2 separate regions of the Homo sapiens genome follow, and region 1 is linked to region 2. The links come from fine-mapping of genetic effects on gene expression. A gene starts in region 2. The other region holds a variant in brackets. All regions are shown on one strand. Distances are between the middles of the regions.

Region 1 (4,391 bases), 34 kb before region 2:
TTAAATGTGGAGGGGGAATACTTTAAGTTCTGGAGACAGAGAAGGGTGCTGAGGGTTGCCTAGAGAAGACAGAATAACTTACTCTAAATTCCAGTTTGGTCTCTAGAGCGGGGAGTGGCAAACCTTCTTTGGAAAAGGGTAAGCAGTAAACATTTTAGGCTTTAAGGACCAGAGAGTCTCTGTTGCAACTGCTTAGCTCTGCTTATGTAGCATGGAAGCAGCCATATGTAAACAAATGGATGTGGCTGTGTTTCAATAAAACTTTATTTAAAGACTTTGAAATGTGAGCTTACTTTGTATTATTTTTGCATGTCACAAAATTATTACTCTTCTTTTGTTTTTTTTCAACTATTTAACAATACTACCCAAAATGAGCTACAGATTCAGTGCAATCTCTATACAAATGAAAAAACATTCTTAATCATGGTCATACAAAAATAGGCAGCAGGCTGGACTTGGCTGGTGGACCATACTTTTCCCACTCCTGTTCTATAGTCCAGAGAGATGTGAAGAGTGAAGCTTTTCATCTTTTCCATCTTGTCAGCTCAGCTGCCTTGGGTAGGAAGGGGTTTATAAAAAGTGCTTCTTCACTGCATCAGCTGTATGGCTGGGCAAGTTACAAGTCACTGGCACTCCGTGTGCCTCTTTTTCCCCTTCTATAAAATGGGAATATAAATAGTTCATAGTTTGGAGGAGTAGATAAAATCATCCATTGAAGGCACTTAGAACAGTGTCTGACATGGGGAAATCTTCACTAAATGTCAGCCATTCTCATTATGGTTGTTGTGGTTGATGCTGTTTGTCAGTGGGGTGGAGAAAGACATGAAATCCAAGGAACAATTTGGCCCTTTGTTCCAGGAGCAGCAATAATTTTGACAATACTACGGGATTCCCTGGGTTCACCCCTTGACTTTCCGAATCTGCCCATTTTAGGGTGTGAATCTTTAGAGTTGGATGGGTCTTCTAGTGAAACCCCCTTTCTAAAGCCAATCTTATCTGTAGACACCGTTACTAAGAGCCATCCCTCGGTTTTTTAGTCTCTTATAAGATAGTCAGGTGCAACCACAAGAGGAGATGCAGGAGAGGCTCAGGGAAAAAAGAAGCCGATTATACTCACAGGTCCTAGGGACAAGGGGCACACACACTGTGTTGGTCCATATGAGAAAGACACCAGGGTGGAGCTCGCAGAAGATAGGATGAGGGGGAGATTTAAGCCATAACCTTTGTTGGGGTTTCTGGGGAAAGGCAAGGCAGGGCAGGGTGAATGGTTTTGGATGGGCTAGATTGAATAATTCTGGCAGGCTTTTGGCTACAAAGAGGGGTCTCTGTTGCTGGCACCTGGTCCTGGGATGATGTAGGCAGAGGAATACTGCCTCCTGGGATGCACTGGCCAGATACAGGAGGTCTGGCACTGCACTGGTTAGTTTGCATATCAAAGACATGCTTCAGTCTGAGTCCTTTCTCTAAGAATTGGCCAGATCCAGGAGGGGCCATCTCTCACCAACCAGAAAGGTTTTTTAAAATGCCAAAACATCACAGCATACAGAAAATTTTAAAGTCTTTGCAACATACCCTCTCAAATGTGATTTCAACTGCATCCAACCCCATTAAAAGTTCTAGATGAGCCCTCAGTTGTGTCCTGTACCTAACCAACACTCCTGTTCTTAGGCTTAGAGACCCTCCATCCTTACTTTCTCCTACATAACTGGCTGTGCTCGTGTCCGCCTCCTAGGTCCTCCATCTCCTCCTCCAACACTTATTGACCACTAGTAGCTGGCTTGACTTGAGGCCCCTGGAGACAGGGAACAGGTCTTAGGCATCTTGGAGTCCCACACTCCTAGCCCATGCCAGCATTCCATCAGTGTTTGTAGAATTGAGTGGTACCCTGGTTCCCACACGTGGTTCACATTAACAGACTCACTCTTCTCCAAAGTCACTTGCGCCTCCTCCAGACGCTCCATGTACCGGATGGTCCCAGCTGCTGCAATGTCCTAACCTACATTTGCCCCAGTGCCCCACAGCACTGAGCACCCTACCAGCAATTAAAGAGGTTTAACCAAAGTGCAAAAGCACATACGTAACCAGGATCAACTGACTGGCCTGGGAAAGCTTCTGTGTGAACTCTGCCACCAGAAGTGAGTGTTTGTTTGGGAAGACAGGAAGCAGTGAACTCAGAGAATAACACAGGCAGAGCCCAATGAGGTAAGCAGAGGGAAGGAAGTAAAATTTTCCATTCTAGTTTAGCCATGACTAAAGTTGTCAGGAATCAATGCAATAACTTCGAATTTGAACGTATTTGCATGAGTGGATCTCTGCAAATCTGGGCTTTTATTTTCCCATATGTTCCTACTTTAGCTTTCACAAGACTTTTTACAGTTACAATTGCAGAAGAAATGATCTGAGACATGTTCAGATATATTTTGTTCATTTATTTAACAAACACTCAATAGTGCTTATTTATGCCAGGCACTGTTCTCAGAACTTTATATATAACCATGACTCAATGCTGCTTTCCATTCATTTATTCATTCATTCAA[TA/T]AAAATAAATATGATATCTTCTGTGAAACCACATTGTACCAGGAATAAAAAGGCATAAGATGCTGTTTTCTTTTCTCTTGGGCTTAGAGGGTGAGACAGACAAGTAAATCAATAACACAACACTTATAGTACAGGATGTGGTAAGGGGACACACAATATGTATCATTTGTCCTATGGGACAAGGAGGAAGGACACCAAAATTAGCCTTGAGTAGGTGATGTTGAAACTGGGTCTTAAAAGATGAGTGAGGGGCTGTGAAGACAGTAGGAAGCTGTGTGGCAGGAACAGCTTGTCCACAGCATCAAGGGAAAGCCAGCTGCACCCTCAGGGAGCTGCAAGCCATCTTCCACAGCCTTAAGCAAAGGCTGTGTATCTGAGCATGAGGAAGGGGCTTAGACAGCTTGGGCAGCCATCACAAAGTGCCACCAACTTTGTGTCTTAGTCTGTTTATGCTGTGATAACAGAATACCACCAACTGGGTAACTTATAAAGAACAGAAATGTATTTGCCTCACAGTTCCAGAGGCTGAGAAGTCCAAGATCAAGGTGCCAGCATCTGGGAGAGGCTTCTTGCTGTGTCCTCCTGTGGCAAAAGGTGAAAGGATCAGAGAGAACCAGACTCACTTTTATAACCCACTGTCCATAACAAACCGGCTCCTGAGATAATGACATTAATCCCTGCATGAGGCAGTGCCCTCAGGACCTAATCACCTCTTATTAGACCTCACTTCCCAACACTGTTGCCTTGGGGATTAAGTCTCCAATCCACGGACTTTGCTTTGAATTGGTTTGACACATTCAAACCAGAGCAAGATGCAAGTTCAGTTTCCGATGAGGGCTCTCTCCCTGGTTTGTAGATGGCTGCCACCTGCTGTATCCTCATGTGGTCTTTCCTCTGTATGCCCACAAACTCTGGAGCTGTTCTCTTCTTATATGGGTGCCAGTCCTATGGGATTGAAGTCCCACCCTTATGACCTCATTTGACCTGAGTGAATTTTCTAAACTATCTCCAAATACAGTCACATCCTATGGTGCTGGGTGTTAGGACTTCAGTATATGAATTGCTAGGGGGACGTGGGTAGGAGGGATTGGGAGAGAGGAGACTGGTATGAAGGCTACTGAGATAGTACTGAGAAAAAGTGGCAGAAAGCTAAGCAAAATCAATGGCAGTGGGGGTGGGAAGGAACCAAGAGATTCCTGAGATTTGTAGAAGGCAGAGTCAGTGGGTGGAGGCACCCAGTTGGCTAGGAGGACTGGGGTGGAGGAACAGCAGAAGAGCGTAGGGGTGGAGGGAGGAAGTGAGAGGGTGCAGTCTAGGATGCCCTCACAGCGCTGGATGGAGGGATAGTGATGCCTCCCTGGGATGAGAAACACAGGAGAAACAGCACATTGGGCAGGAGGAAGACGATGAGTTGCAGGTGCCAGGGGGAAATCATGTGGAGAGGTTAGCAGGAAGTTGTGTAGATTGGTCAGAGAGCCTGACAAGAAATCTGGCCTGGAGCTAGAGATTCAGACATCATCAGCTTGTAAGTGGTCATCAGAGCCAAAGATTTGGACAAAGTCATCCAGGAAAGGTGGACAAGGACAGAACTCTGCAGTTCAGGAAAATGAGTGGCCTGAAATGAGGGAGAAAGAGTGGGAGAAGACAGGGAGCTGACACTATTACTCGAGAACCGGGCACTGAGCTAGATGCTGTGAGTGGGCGGTCAACTCATTGTACTCTTACAGAAGTCCCCTGATGTAGGCATCAAACAAACACTTACATTGCACTTACTATGTGTCAGACAATTCTTTGCCATAACACATCAAATCCTTACAAACCTCACACTTCACATATGAGGAAACTGAAACACA
Region 2 (4,391 bases):
TCATCATGTTTACAGCACAGTGAGGTGGGTGCTGGTATTCTCATTTACAGATAAGGAGACCAGGGATCAGGGAAGGATTTGCTTACCCCTAAGGGCCTGCAGTGACAGAAAGATCCTTTGGCTCTCTATTTGGTTCCTACCGCACCATTTCACAGCTTGCCTAAAATGAGACAAATTGTAAGATATTAATAAGAATTCACTTTCAAAATTCTATATACTTGCTGCTCTATTTTAAACATATATTTCTCTTAAATTATGCTATGCTAATTAGCTCTACCATTTCCAGACAGTAATCTGTTATTGGGTGCTACTTTTTAAATTTAGATGCCACTACTAAATCCTAATTTAGACTCATTCCTTTTAATAACATCTATGCCTTCTAATGTGTTCCACCCTCCATTGCTTCAAAACATGAGAGTTTATAATGTGTTATATTCATTCCATTATATGGATAGAACTCTACCTTCAGGAAATTCTAGTTTAGCTCTTCATTTTAAAGACATTCCTTGCACATATATTTGGGATCCTTACCTTGATGCTTTTTCTGTCTCCTTTGATAAATTCCTCCTTTGTCACACTGCACTGTTTCTCTGAGGTCTTGTATTAGAATAGCCCCTTAAGAATAAGGAACTGTTGTAAATTGCTTTGTAAACAGGTTGCCAGCCAACTCCAAAATGTATTTCCTGTCTTCTCTTTTCACCCAAGTGGGTAATAACTGTGTTGTAACCTGGAGACAGTCAGTAGTTACTAACCACCTAGTATGTCAAATTACCAGGTAAGGTTATCCAGCAAAAGGGGCTCACTGCACTAGAAGCCAACACTATGACACCAAGTTTTTGAGAAAAGGAAAGCTTCACATTGCAAGTTAACTTCTGAGGAAACAAAAGTCCAGTTCAAATCTGTCTTGTACTGGCTTTAGGGCAGTAATTTTATTACAAAAGGTTTAGGGTTGGATCCTGGGGTTAGCAGGTGATTGGTGGAAGCAAAGGGAACATCTGGGAAGTCTTCAGGCATGCATGGCTCTCTCTTCATGCTTCCTGGTGGGTCCCATGTGCAAATTTGGAGGGAGTTGGTATGAAACATGCAGTAGAAATTCAGGCTGTGACATCAGCAAGCTTGCTGTGCGCAAACTGCATTTGGCCATATTGATTCCGGCTGATTTCAGTCAGTTTTGTTATAAGCAGAGGGAGTTTCAGCAAATTGTTTCTTTTCTTATCTGCCCCTGAAAACAAGAATTTCTGTTAGTTATTGGTGTCTTTGACTCTTTGAAACAGTTTCAGTAGTTCCCAAGATATGAAGATAAAAGACCCCCTTCATCAGTGAAAACTCTTACAAGGGGATGAAAGACACAGCTTCCTCTATGAGAGCACAAGAACAATTAAATTGACCCTCACAAACACTATGGTTGGTGCCAGGAACGTGGCCTGGTGAGGAGGACAGTGTCACATCCTCCCTGCCCACTCCTGTTTCCACGCGTGCATTTCCTCTTCTGCCCCTCTCCTAAGCCAGGATGACCCTTCTGACCGCGTGGAACTATCACAGAAACTGCTTCCATTTATACCAGATGACTTGGGATTCAGTCTTCTTGCTTGGTTTTTATTGACTGCAAAAATCCATGACAACTTTGCGCACATTTGCTTAAGCTGAAAGCAAATGGATGAAAGTTTGTAGTTGAAAATCTACTTTCTCTTCAATCTCTTCCCTTTTTGCTTTTCTTAGGAAACATACAAGACAGTGGTCCGGAAAGCTCACTGCAAGAACTGTACAAATAATGTAAAAGTAAGGCATCCATAAGATCAAAGCCACATTTCTTTGCTCTCTGCACCCCATTCCCGCGCCGGCCAGGTTAAGCCTCCTGCGTGGCCAGCACCCCTTGGCAGGGGCAGAACTCCCTGGAACCCGATCCTTGTCTCCATGGCGACGCGTCACAAAGCAGCCCGCGGCTCCCGCAAGCGCTGAGATAGCTGGAGCCAGGGCCCCGCGGCCGCCTCCTGGGGCAGAATGGAACAGCCTGGGCCCAGGGCTCCGGATCCCTCTCTCTGCCACCACAACCTCCAGCCAAGTAAGACAGCAGACTCTGCCGGTCTGCGGGGCGGGGCTGGGGTCTTTCCCGGGGAAAGGGTCCTGTTGAGAAAAAGGGGCCTTAGTATTTAAGGGTGTGGCATCGCTCTTAGGAGTATGCTCAACTGAGGAAAAGACGGGGAGTCAGGGAGAATGACAGGGCCTTCATGACGCTGCCCCTTTTCAGTCCTTCGCATAACCTTTGCCAAATCCCCGCTCCCTAAAACGCGCAGGGTTTTTAAACACTCGAGGAAGTGCCTGGCTAAGAGGGGACAGGAAAAAAGGAAGAACTGGTGATTTTCCAAGGAAAACAGGGCCAAAGGCAAAGAAGAAAGAGAAGTCCTGGAAGCTCTGAAGAGAACAGGTCCTGCCTGAGTCCCGATCCCCATATAGGATCTTGGAAACAGCAAGGAAAGTGGGGGAAGGGTTGGCTGCTGAATGGAGTCCCAGCTGTGTCTGCAGAGGCAGACGCCCTCCCTGGGCTGTCGCACCAGGCTGGGAGCCATGGCCTTCAGCTGCCGCCTCTAACCTGAATTGATTTTTCTTCCACAGAGATTTTGTATTTCACAGAGGTAGTGCTTTTCATCCTAATTCTGCCCACAGATGCAGCAGGTTCACCAGTTCAGCCTTTTGGGTCTGTGGAGGGAGAACCACTCTAGCTGTGACGCTAGTGGCATGATTACCGTGTAGTCAGCTCCATCATAGTCTCTTGTGGCAATAATTGGCCATTGCTGCTGTATAGTTGGGTAACTGTGATTCCACAGTGGCTATGGAGCAGTGAAGGATTGTTCAAGTACAAATTCCCTAGAATTGTGCTCCCAAAAGAGTGAATGAAATGCATATTTTCATTCCAATTCATTCCGTTGTAAATTAAGAATGGAAAATGAAAATACTTAATTAGTGCAGAAAATATCTAATACACTCAGTTTCTATATGATGGGAAGGCAAACAGGAGAGACAGAGGAGGGAGGATCCCCTCCTAGCATCCCGACAGCACCCCTTTGGATGCTTCTCTTCCCTTTCTAACCACCCTGTTTTCCCACTGTCTCCCCATTTCATCCCCTTCTTGTCTGGGAACTGTTGGAGTCCCCCAGGATTGATCCTTCTAGGCTTACCTTCTCTTTGTGACCATATCCTGCACAGGGCTTCAAGTGCTGCATAAAGGTGCCAACAACTCTCTAACCTTTATCTCTGACTTGGACTTTCTTCCTACTTTTTCAGACCAGAATATCTAACTGTCTACCAGACAGTTCCATGTGGGTGTCACAGCAGGGCCTCCAACTTGACATGTGCAAAATCACACTCCTTGTCCTCCTCAAACCTTCCAGACTTTGAGAGTTCAGTTAAGAGGGTCCTAGCTGCTCAATTTAGAAGGGAAGGCAGCTTCCTTGAGACTGCAGTTTGATCACCAGGTCTCTTTGATTCTGCCTCCAAAGCTCTTTTTCCCCCAGGTGAATTCGCCCCTTTACCTCCAGGCTTGGGCCTCTAATGGCTACTCTGTGCCACTTCATTCCCCACTGCTGGGAGAGTCACCCTCCAAATGGTAGGCTTGATGTGTCCCCACTGCCCAGGTTTGGTCCGAAATAGGATGAGGTTGATGGTGACTGATGACTAACTGTTATTGAATAATTACTACAGATGGGGCTCTCAGGTGTTGTATTAGTTTCCTGTGGCTGCTATGTGTTCCCACAGACTGGTGGATTCAAACAACAAAAATGTATTTGCTCACAGCTCTGAAGGTCGAGAGCCTGAAATCAAGGTCTGGACAAGTCTGCACTCCCTCTACAGGCCCTAGGGGAGAAGTGGTCCTTACGTCTTCCAGCTTCAGGTAGCCATCGGCACTGCTAGTGATGGCAGTGGCTGCTGCCATCATGCTGGCTGCAGCAGGGAAGCACAGCTGGGGCTGCAACACTCCATGGAGCCCGTGGGAGCTGCCCCTTCTGAGTTGGGATGGGAGCTCCCTGTGCCGCTACAGCCGCCCAAACTGCAGCTACAGACCCAGGCCTCCTGCTCTATGGAGCAAGCAGGAGCCCTGCAGTCCTGGGCGAGGCTACAGCCACCCAAACTGCGGCTGTGGGTCTGAGCCTCCCTGTGCCTCTGAGCCTCCCTGTGGAACCCACGGCTGCAGACCTGGGCCTTTCACTCCATGAAGCAGGCAGGAGCCAGGGACAAGTGGGAGCTTTGCCTCTTCCAAGTTGGTGGGGCAAGAGCTCCCTGGTGCAGCTGCAGCTGCCCTCCCAGGCACAGGACCTGGGCATCTCTGCAGCCTGCACCCTTGGACTCCCCAGGAAGGACACCCTTCACCCATCCATCCCTGCAGGCTCAGGGGT

Alleles and levels. Alleles are on the strand shown, and positions count from the first base shown. SD is a standard deviation of normalised expression in the study named.
For the expression in aorta of the gene that starts at base 1,894 in region 2, T is the low allele of the variant in region 1 and TA is the other (small effect, 0.24 SD a copy in GTEx).

What was found. PIP is the estimated chance that this variant, and not a neighbour inherited with it, causes the effect. A credible set is the group of variants that fine-mapping cannot tell apart.
Region 1: its variant is the best candidate, but not a certain one, in a credible set for the expression of TEX26-AS1 in aorta (GTEx, PIP 0.74).

Annotation. Positions count from the first base shown.
Region 1 is chr13:30,896,867-30,901,257 of GRCh38, forward strand. The region is part of intron 2 of TEX26-AS1 (TEX26 antisense RNA 1); the gene reads right to left. Among named protein-coding and RNA genes, the nearest start is that of MEDAG, 7.2 kb to the right of the region's middle. The variant TA/T (reference allele first, on the strand shown) is at 2,538.
Region 2 is chr13:30,930,715-30,935,105 of GRCh38, forward strand. TEX26-AS1 (TEX26 antisense RNA 1) reads right to left here and starts at 1,894. Exons shown (of 4, transcript NR_038287.1): 1 at 532-1,894; 2 at 87-160. It overlaps TEX26 (testis expressed 26), which reads left to right and starts at 1,942. Exons shown (of 7, transcript NM_152325.3): 1 at 1,942-2,062. The coding sequence starts at 2,002.